Linked DNA regions of Homo sapiens: regions 2 and 3 are each linked to region 1. Evidence: fine-mapped QTL for protein levels in blood plasma. Region 1 holds a variant in brackets. A gene starts in each other region. All regions are shown on their forward strands.

Evidence for each region. PIP is the chance, under the fine-mapping model, that this variant and not a neighbour inherited with it causes the effect. The UK Biobank Pharma Proteomics Project read protein levels with antibody pairs (Olink). The fine-mapping took linkage between variants from a reference panel, not from the people measured, so its PIPs are less certain.
Region 2: it holds the start of SIGLEC1, and the variant in region 1 is fine-mapped to the plasma level of the SIGLEC1 protein (UK Biobank, PIP 0.99).
Region 3: it holds the start of CSF1R, and the variant in region 1 is fine-mapped to the plasma level of the CSF1R protein (UK Biobank, PIP 0.95).

The regions. Positions count from the first base shown.
Region 1 is chr9:33,116,128-33,118,627 of GRCh38, forward strand. The region is part of intron 3 of B4GALT1 (beta-1,4-galactosyltransferase 1); the gene reads right to left. Among named protein-coding and RNA genes, the nearest start is that of MIR12117, 8.7 kb to the left of the region's middle. The variant C/T (reference allele first, on the strand shown) is at 1,399.
Region 2 is chr20:3,711,459-3,714,302 of GRCh38, forward strand. It overlaps SIGLEC1 (sialic acid binding Ig like lectin 1), which reads right to left and starts at 1,142. Exons shown (of 22, transcript NM_023068.4): 1 at 1,012-1,142.
Region 3 is chr5:150,084,877-150,087,720 of GRCh38, forward strand. It overlaps CSF1R (colony stimulating factor 1 receptor), which reads right to left and starts at 1,678. Exons shown (of 21, transcript NM_001288705.3): 1 at 1,503-1,678. The coding sequence starts at 1,551. RefSeq lists a promoter at 1,551-1,983 and an enhancer at 1,736-1,765.

The sequences.
Region 1 (2,500 bases):
TACACACAGAAGGAGCAGTGGTTAGTTAAGTTCTGACATCCCCAAAATAAAGCTTGCTGAGAACATAAACACTTTTAAAGTTATTCTTTTTGCTTCTCTAGAGTTTTTATTTATTTTTTTTTTGAGACGTAGTCTTGCTCTGTTGCCAGGCTGGAGTGCAGGGGCGCGATCTAGGCTCACTGCAACTTCCGCCTCCCGGGTTCAAGCGATTCTTCTGCCTCAGCCTCCTGAGGAGCTGGGACTACAGGCGCCTGCCACCACGCCCAGCTAATTTTTAGTAGAGACAGGGTTTCACCATGTTGGTCAGGATGGTCTTGATCTCTTAACCTCGTGATCCACCGGCCTCGGCCTCCCAAAGTGCTGGGATTACAGTTGTAAGACACCAAACCGGATCTTTTTTTTTTTTTTTTTTTGAAGGAGTCTCGCTCTGTAGCCCAGGCTGGAGTACAATGGCGTGATCTCGGCTCACTGCAACCTCCGCCTCCCAGGTTTTCAAGTAATTCTCCTGTCTCAGCCTCCCAAGTAGCTGGGACTACAGGCGTGTGCCACCACACCTGGCTAATTTTTGTATTTTTAGTACAGATGGGGTTTCACCATATTGGTCAGGCTGGTCTCGAACTCCTGACCTCAGGTGATCCACCCACCTTAGCCTCCCAAAGTGCTGGGATCACAGGCAAGAGCCACCATGTCCAGCCTCTCTAAAGCTTTTTTGATGGTGGGTGGGGTGGGAGGGAGCAGTTACAAGGGTTTTGTCTGTTTTGCTTTTCTATCAGGGCTCAGATGACCTTAAATTAGACACAGATATCAAAAAGTATGATCTTCCTCTTTCTACAACACAGTGCTGTTTCTGTGGTTATGTAGAAAGCCAGTCAGTGACAAGAGCAGGCCTAGGCCCAGTTCTTCCTGAGTGGCTCAGGAATCTGCTTCTCCTGTGCTCTGTTCCCGCACATGAAGTCCTTATCCAGGAACTCCTGGAATCTGAGATTGTTTCAGAGCCTCTCTGTACCCACCCAGTCACAGCCCCCCTTCCACACCCATCCTATCGACCAATCCAGCTTTCATGCTTCCAAAGGCATACTGACTAGAACACTGGCCCTAACAGTTGAGGCAGTGTTTCTGAAAATTTGCTAAAATAAAACTTCTTTGAAACTTCAGACTTTATCCTGATTTAGCAAAATGTATAATGATGAACTTATGTTTTAACATATTTTCAAGTAGTAGAGCATCTGGGCTCTCATCCTTCCAAAACTTTTTGTATTTTAATATTTCAGTGGTTATGAATTGTGAACTCCTAAGGGATACAAAGTCAGCACTGATGAGAAATGTCAAGAATCAGGACGTGCCCCAAAGCCTTCCTGTGGGTTCTCTAAAGGCTGTGGTTTTGTGTGACTCTGAGTG[C/T]AGCTCCAAACCACACCCAGCTCTTTCTGGAATCCAAAAAGACCAAACCCATCACATAAATTAAGGAAAACTCTAACTCAGACTTTGAGGGGGAAGTCAGCCAAACCATACAGAACATATGAAAATAAAGATGCAATTATTATTTTCAAATATATTCAGGAATTCTGACTGTAAGGATCCTCAAGCAAAGGTCCCCAGGGGGTCTGCTTTAATGAACCTATTCGTAATTAGGTGTCATCACTTAGGTGCTGAGTCATCCACCTTTGGCACACCTCATACTACTGTCCACATTATTAATGTGAGGGTTTGAACCAAAGGTGGCCAGGCCAATAAGGTTTTCTGATAATCAGTGCTTTTACAGAAATGGATTCTTAGCTATTTCAGAGGGAAGTACATGCCAAGCTGACATGATTTGGTTTTGCTGTCTCTGCTGCTTTCTCTCCCCTATCTGCCCCAAGCCCAAACCTGCCAGGCTCCTTGTGAAACAAACATGGTGCTGTGGCAAAGAATTAGGGCATCACGGGCCCCTTCCTTGTTCACCACTGTGCTTCAAGGGATGAATCAAGAGGGGTCAGGGTATAAACCTGTGTGTTTCAAGAGAAGAAGATACACACACGGAGAGGGAGGAAGGGTGAAAGCGGGGACGGAAGGGTATAGAAGGATTTCTGAAGAGTCTAAAAGTAAGGTTACATTCAAATTTTCCTCCCTTTAAGACAAGAAGTTAGGATTTTTGATCTGGGAGAAGGACTTCATACATTCCTATATTCCCATCACAGCTCTCATGCTCCCAGCAAGGGAGGACAGGAAGAAATGATGAGAATAAAATGAGTCTGACAGAAAGCTGTTGCATCTCAGCAGGTGCAGTAGTTCATGCCTGTCATCCCAGCACTTTGGGAGGTCAAAGCAGGAGGATTGCTTGAGCCCCCAGGAGTTCAAGACCAGCCTGGGTAACATAGTGAGACATCTCTAAAAAAAAAAATTTTTTTTTTTTTAAATCAGCCAGGGGTGCTGGCCCACACCTGTGGTCCCAGCTACTAGGAAAGCCGAGGTGAGAGGATCACTTGAGCCAGGGAGTTTAAGGCTATAGTGAGCCATGATCACG
Region 2 (2,844 bases), not on the chromosome of region 1:
GTTTCCCTATGGACAGCTAGGCCCGGGTGTAGGATTCAGTTTCTGTTTCCTGACACCAAGGCTTCTCCCCAACTTCCCCATTGGGCTAGAGAAGGAAGAACACAGGGTGACATGGCCAGCTGGAGGTTACTGGCCCACAGATAGGGAGTCAGGGTACGGATGGGCAATTCCTGGAGCAGATTATGGTCAAAATAGTGGAAATCCCCAATCACAGGCCAAATGTTTAATTCTCAGAGCCATAGAATCCATAACTAATGCTTATTGGCTTTGACATGGGCAGTAGAAATTTCACACTTCATTCCTTAATCTGGCTCTAAATGCTTCTGGCTGGAGTGCTCACTCTCCAAACTGTGCTGGACAGCACCAGAAGCCCTCCTGTGGACGGACGAAGTGGTGATGGATGAAGTGGAATTGTGCTGGGGTTAGAGTAAGGAGAGATTATCGTTGGGCTGGGCTGGGGCTGAGGTCAGGGTGATGATCAGGTTGGAATTCTGGAAGCAAATTAAGGCTGGGATTGGGGTGGACATTGAGGTTGAGTGATGGGTGGGGGTAAGGGTGAAGGTTGGAGTTGGGTGCAGGTGATGGTTAAGATACGGTGGAGGCTGGGTTGAGATGAGGATGATAGAGTCGGAGTTGTGGTTAGGGTTGGGATGATGGATGGTTGGGATTAGATGAGATGAGTAAATGGTTAGGGTTGGGGTGCAAGTGAGGTGAGGGTGAGATAAGGTTGGAATAGGGGCTGGGGCTGGGGCTGAGGTAGGGTCAGAGCAGGGTGATGGTCGGGACTGGGATTGGGATGCAGGTTGGAAGGATTTGGGGGTGGTGGAAGGGTTTCAGTTGAGTCCATCTTTGATTAGTGTCTTGGACTTGGGTTGGTTTGGGGTCCACCACTCGCACCCAGATGGAGCCCCCCCCCGACCCCTGCCCCTATCCCGCTCAGCCAGTTTCAGCCCAGCCCCGCTCCTAATGCTCCACTCACCCTCTGGGCCCAGGGACCAGGGACAGGGGTACCTGCTCCACAGAAGGAAGTGGCTGCGGCGGTGCTGGACCTGCGGAGAGGAGAACAGGAAGGACGGCCAAGAGCTCCTGGTGCAGCTGGCTCCCCAGGGCTCTGCCGGCTCAAGAGAGAAGGATCCCGTATCAGGGGCTGCTTCCTCTTTCCCAAAGCCTCAGCTCTACTGTCCAACCCAGAGGCTGGTCAGGGAGGCAGCTGCAGGCCTTGCGCAATGCCAAAACGGGAAAGACCTCCATAGGGGAAGGCCCTCGGCAAGGCCAGGGACTTAGGGACTCCAGCAAGCAGAAGTGGGACCGCTGCAACGCTGGAGCCTCCCCAGGCAAAGTGAGAAATGGAGTGGGGGACTCCCATTCACCAGCCAAATCCACACCCCACTCTCTCTGAGCCCCTTAGGGAGGCTGGGGGAGGTGGAAGGGGGCTTCCTGCACACAGCTCTCCTCCCTGACACCTGAGAGGGAGGCGCGCCCAGCCTGGGGTGGGGATGCACTACACGATGCCCAGACCAAGGCAGTTATTCTCCAAGCCATTCAGGAGCCTCCCTGTACCACTGAGTACTCTTAAGAACCCCCAAGAGGCAGTCCCGTGTTGTGGGGGACATAAGGCCCCAATGTCCAGGACACTCCTCAGGTTTTCTCTTTCCCCTCTCACTGTCCTGTACGTTTTTTGGTTTTTGGCTTCTTGTTGTTGGTTTTTTTCTTTTTGTTTTGTTTTTGCTTTTGAGATGGAGTCTCACTCTGTCGTCCAGGCTGGAGTGCGGTGGCACAATCTCAGCTCACGGCAACCTCCACCTCCCGAGTTCAAGTGATCATCTTGCCTCAGCCTCTCGAGTAGCTGGGATTACAGGCATGCACCACCACATCCGGCTAATTTTTGTATTTTTGGTAGAGACGGGGTTTCACCATGTTGTCCAGGTTGGTCTTGAACTCCTGACCCCAAGTAATCTGCCTGCCTCGGCCTCCCAAAGTTCTGGGATTACAGAGGTGAGCCGCTGCACCCGGCCACTATCCTATACCTTCACCCCCACCTTGGGACAGGAAAGGAAAGCCCCCACCACAGCTAGTTACTGTTACATTACTGCAGCCCATCTTATTGAGGGCCTAGTTTGTGCAGGCACTTGACATGTGAAGCAGATGTTAATTGCTCCAAGCAATCCCAGATACAAGCAACAAGACTTTTTTTGGTTTTTGTTTGTTTGTTTGTTTTTGTTTTTTGAGACAGTGTCTTGCTCTGTCGCCCAGGCTGGGGTGTCCTGGTGCAATCTTGGCTCACTTTGGCTCACTGCAGCTTCGAAATTCTAGGCTTAAGCAATCCTCCTGCTTCAGCCTCCTAAGAAGCCGGGATTACAGGCGCTTGCCACTATGCACGGCTAATTTTTTAAGTTATTTTGTAGAGACGGAGTCTCCCTATGTTCCCAGGCTGGTCTCAAACACCTGGGCTCAAGTGACTCTCCCACCTCGACCTCCCAAAGTGCTGGAACTACAGGCGTAAGCCACCACTCCTGGCCATTTTTTTTTTTAATTTCACAACTCAAACTTAATTCAACTCAGTCCCTGCCTACCTGTACTGGTGGGGAGCTGGCCACAGCAAATTAGGCCCCTGTACCCTGAGGGCAAGGCCACGTGTGCAGGTGTAAAAGGATGTGAAACCCTAAATCAGGGTGGATCCAGAATCGCAGGCCATGGTGCCCCAAAGCAGATGTCTGGTGACATTCCACCCTGAAATGCTCAGGCTACAGAGATATTAGGTCTCTATCACTCTGTTCCTCTTTATAGCTCCTGTGTCCACTCCTATGCTTGGGCCATTTCCTCTTTCGGCCAAAACACAAAGGG
Region 3 (2,844 bases), not on the chromosome of region 1:
GGGACTCTCTGAGATGAAGGGGGTGGCGGGTACACTGTGTGTGCATTTGTCAGACCTCATTGAACTTAAGAACCTGTGCTTTCTACTGCATGTAAGTTACATTGCAAAATAAGAAGTCCAGGCCGGGCGCCGTGACTCACACCAGTAATCCCAACACTTTGGGAGGCCAAGGCAGGTGGATCACCTGAGGTCAGGAGTTCGAGACCAGCTTGGCCAACATGGTGAAATCCCATCTCTACTAAAAATACAAAAATTAGCCAGTCATGATGGTGTATGCCTGTAATCCCAGCTTGGGAGGCTGAGACAGGAGAAACACTTGAACCCGGGAGGTGGAGGTTGCAGTGAGCCGAGATTGTGCCACTGTACTCCAGCCTGGTGACAGAGAGAGACTCTGTCTCAGGAAAAAAAAAAAAAAAACCCAAATACTCAAGCTCAGTGTGATTGCCTGGGCCAGAGAAGGATGGTCAGTGGGCCATCTCCTCCTCATCAGGGACCAGAAGCGCCACGGCCTTAGGGTCCTTCTGTGAAGAGGCCAGTATGAGGCTGTCCTTTCTCCCCTTCAATCCCCATCCTCCCCCAAGGTCCCTTTGAATAAGCAGGCAATAGAAATGTGTTTGTTGGGCCAACAAGCCAAGCACAGCAGCCCCTCACCTCTAGTCATGTTCCCTCCCAGATGGAAATTCTGCAGAACTGCTACAGCCTGGGGACCTCCTGAGACTTGGCAGCCTGTGTCTGGGAGGGCTCTGGTCCAGGAGACCCTCACTGGCCTCTTCCCAATCCCTCCTCTAGCCCTATACCTATTTCACCCCGAATTCCCCTCTCCTGAGCCCTGGGCCAGAGAGGCCAACCTCTTGTCTCTCCCCTCTGACCCCTTACACAAGCCACCCAAGGAAGAACCACCACCCCTATCAGGCCCTTCCAAATCAGATCTTGCATAGAATCATCGAATCACAGGCTGGCAGAGCTGCCAGAGCCATCAGGAGCTCTCCAGGTCCTCCCAACTCAGTGTAGGTCTGGACCAGCAGTGCCGGCATCTCACATCTCCCAGGAGTGTGTTGGATATACAGAATCTCAGGTCGCACCTGAGACCGACTGAGTCTGAATCTGCATTGTAACAAAATCCTCAGGTAACTTGTATGCACAGGAAAGTATGAAAAGCACTGCTCTGGTCTAGTCTATCACTGTCCCCCTGCCCCCAACACCTGCAATTGAATAGAAGTGGACACTGAAGCCTCAAGAGTATCAGAGGCTTGCTCAGGACACACAGTGAGTCGCTGGCAGAGCTGGGACAGATCCACAGCACCAGGTGGACCAGTTCCACCACACCCATCTCTTTTCACCCCACTACCTCTCCAAAGCAGATACCCACAAGCCTGCAGTCCAGTGTTGGGGAGACTAAAACAGCCTGAGGACACCCAGTGAGGGGCAAGGACTGAATCCTTTCACAGGGGTCTTCTCCATCACACCCCAACAAAGTCCCCCACCCCCCGTTCTGCTCTTACCATGCCAAGCTGTGGCCACCAGCAGGAGCAGCAGAACTCCTGGGCCCATGGCCTCGGTGGGGAAGTGGCAGGCAGGTGCAGGGCTGCAAGGTGCCCAGGGCACAGAGCTCTCAGCTACTAGCTCCGCAGGGATCGGGACACTGGACACACGTTCCTCTCCTCTGCACTGGCTGTTTGTCTTGTTTTCCTCTTCCTCCTCCTTGGGCTGATCCTCTTCTTCCCCTTTTAGCTAGGCAAGGCAACCACAGAGTTTGGAAATCTTGGGTCTTTAAGAAGAAAACAAAGCCTTGAACCCAAGAGGGAGGGGTCGCAGTCTGGGGCAGGGCCAGCCTGAGCTTGGGGGGAGCTAGCTAAGTTTGGGGCCCTTCTAAAGCCATCTTCAAGGGGTCTTGGGAGAAGAGACATGTCCAAGAGCAGCCAGACCGTTAGTCAGTAGCACAAATGAGGGTCTTCAGAGTGATCAGGTGGCTCTGGCAGATCCCAAAGAGAAGTTAGGTTGCATGATATTGTGACATATATATTTTTTCTTTACCCTGATGTCCTGGCTTACAACTCCTAAAATCCTTGGAATCTCCAAAGTAATGCATATCTTTTAAAAATTTATTATTATTATTTTAGAGACGCAGTTTCACTCTGTTGCCCAGGCTGGAGCTCTGTGGCTCGATCATAGCTCACTGCAGCCTCAAACTCCTGGCTCAAGCCTTCAAGCTGTGAGATCTGACGTTATCTCTAGGTAAATATAGTGTTCAAATTGAATCGGAGGGCACCAGATTCGTGTCTGCTGCAGAATCTGAACAATTGGTTGATTGCTTGGTGTATGGGGAAATATGCCCCATCCTCTACATCTGGGGTCAGAAGTATTTTGTGTTGTGAGACTATAGGAGAAACGGAGTTTGTTTTCTTCCTGTATACAGGTTGGTCTGGGAGAGCCTGATAATATTGGCAATAAGCTTCCTTTTACAGGACATTTACTAGCCAAACCTTTTACATTCACTGTCTCCTTTAGTACTGCAAAACTTTATGTAGGTAAGTACTATTGTCATTCTCATTTCACAGATGGGAAAACTAAAGCTCAGAGAGATCAAATGCCTTAAGCTTGTCCATAGTCAAACAGCTACCAAATGGTGGAGATAGGATTTGGATCCCAGCAGTCTGGTTATAAAACTATCTTTTGTGCGTTACTTACATTGTTTATTTATTTTTACAAAGAATCTAATTGTTCTGCATAATTCTTAAAATATATAGCATTCCTTTGCTCCCTCTTTTCCTGGAGGCAATTGCTTTTACCTCTTTTAGTTGATTCGCTTAGTATTTTACTTCTTATCTCTAAAGAACATGGTCA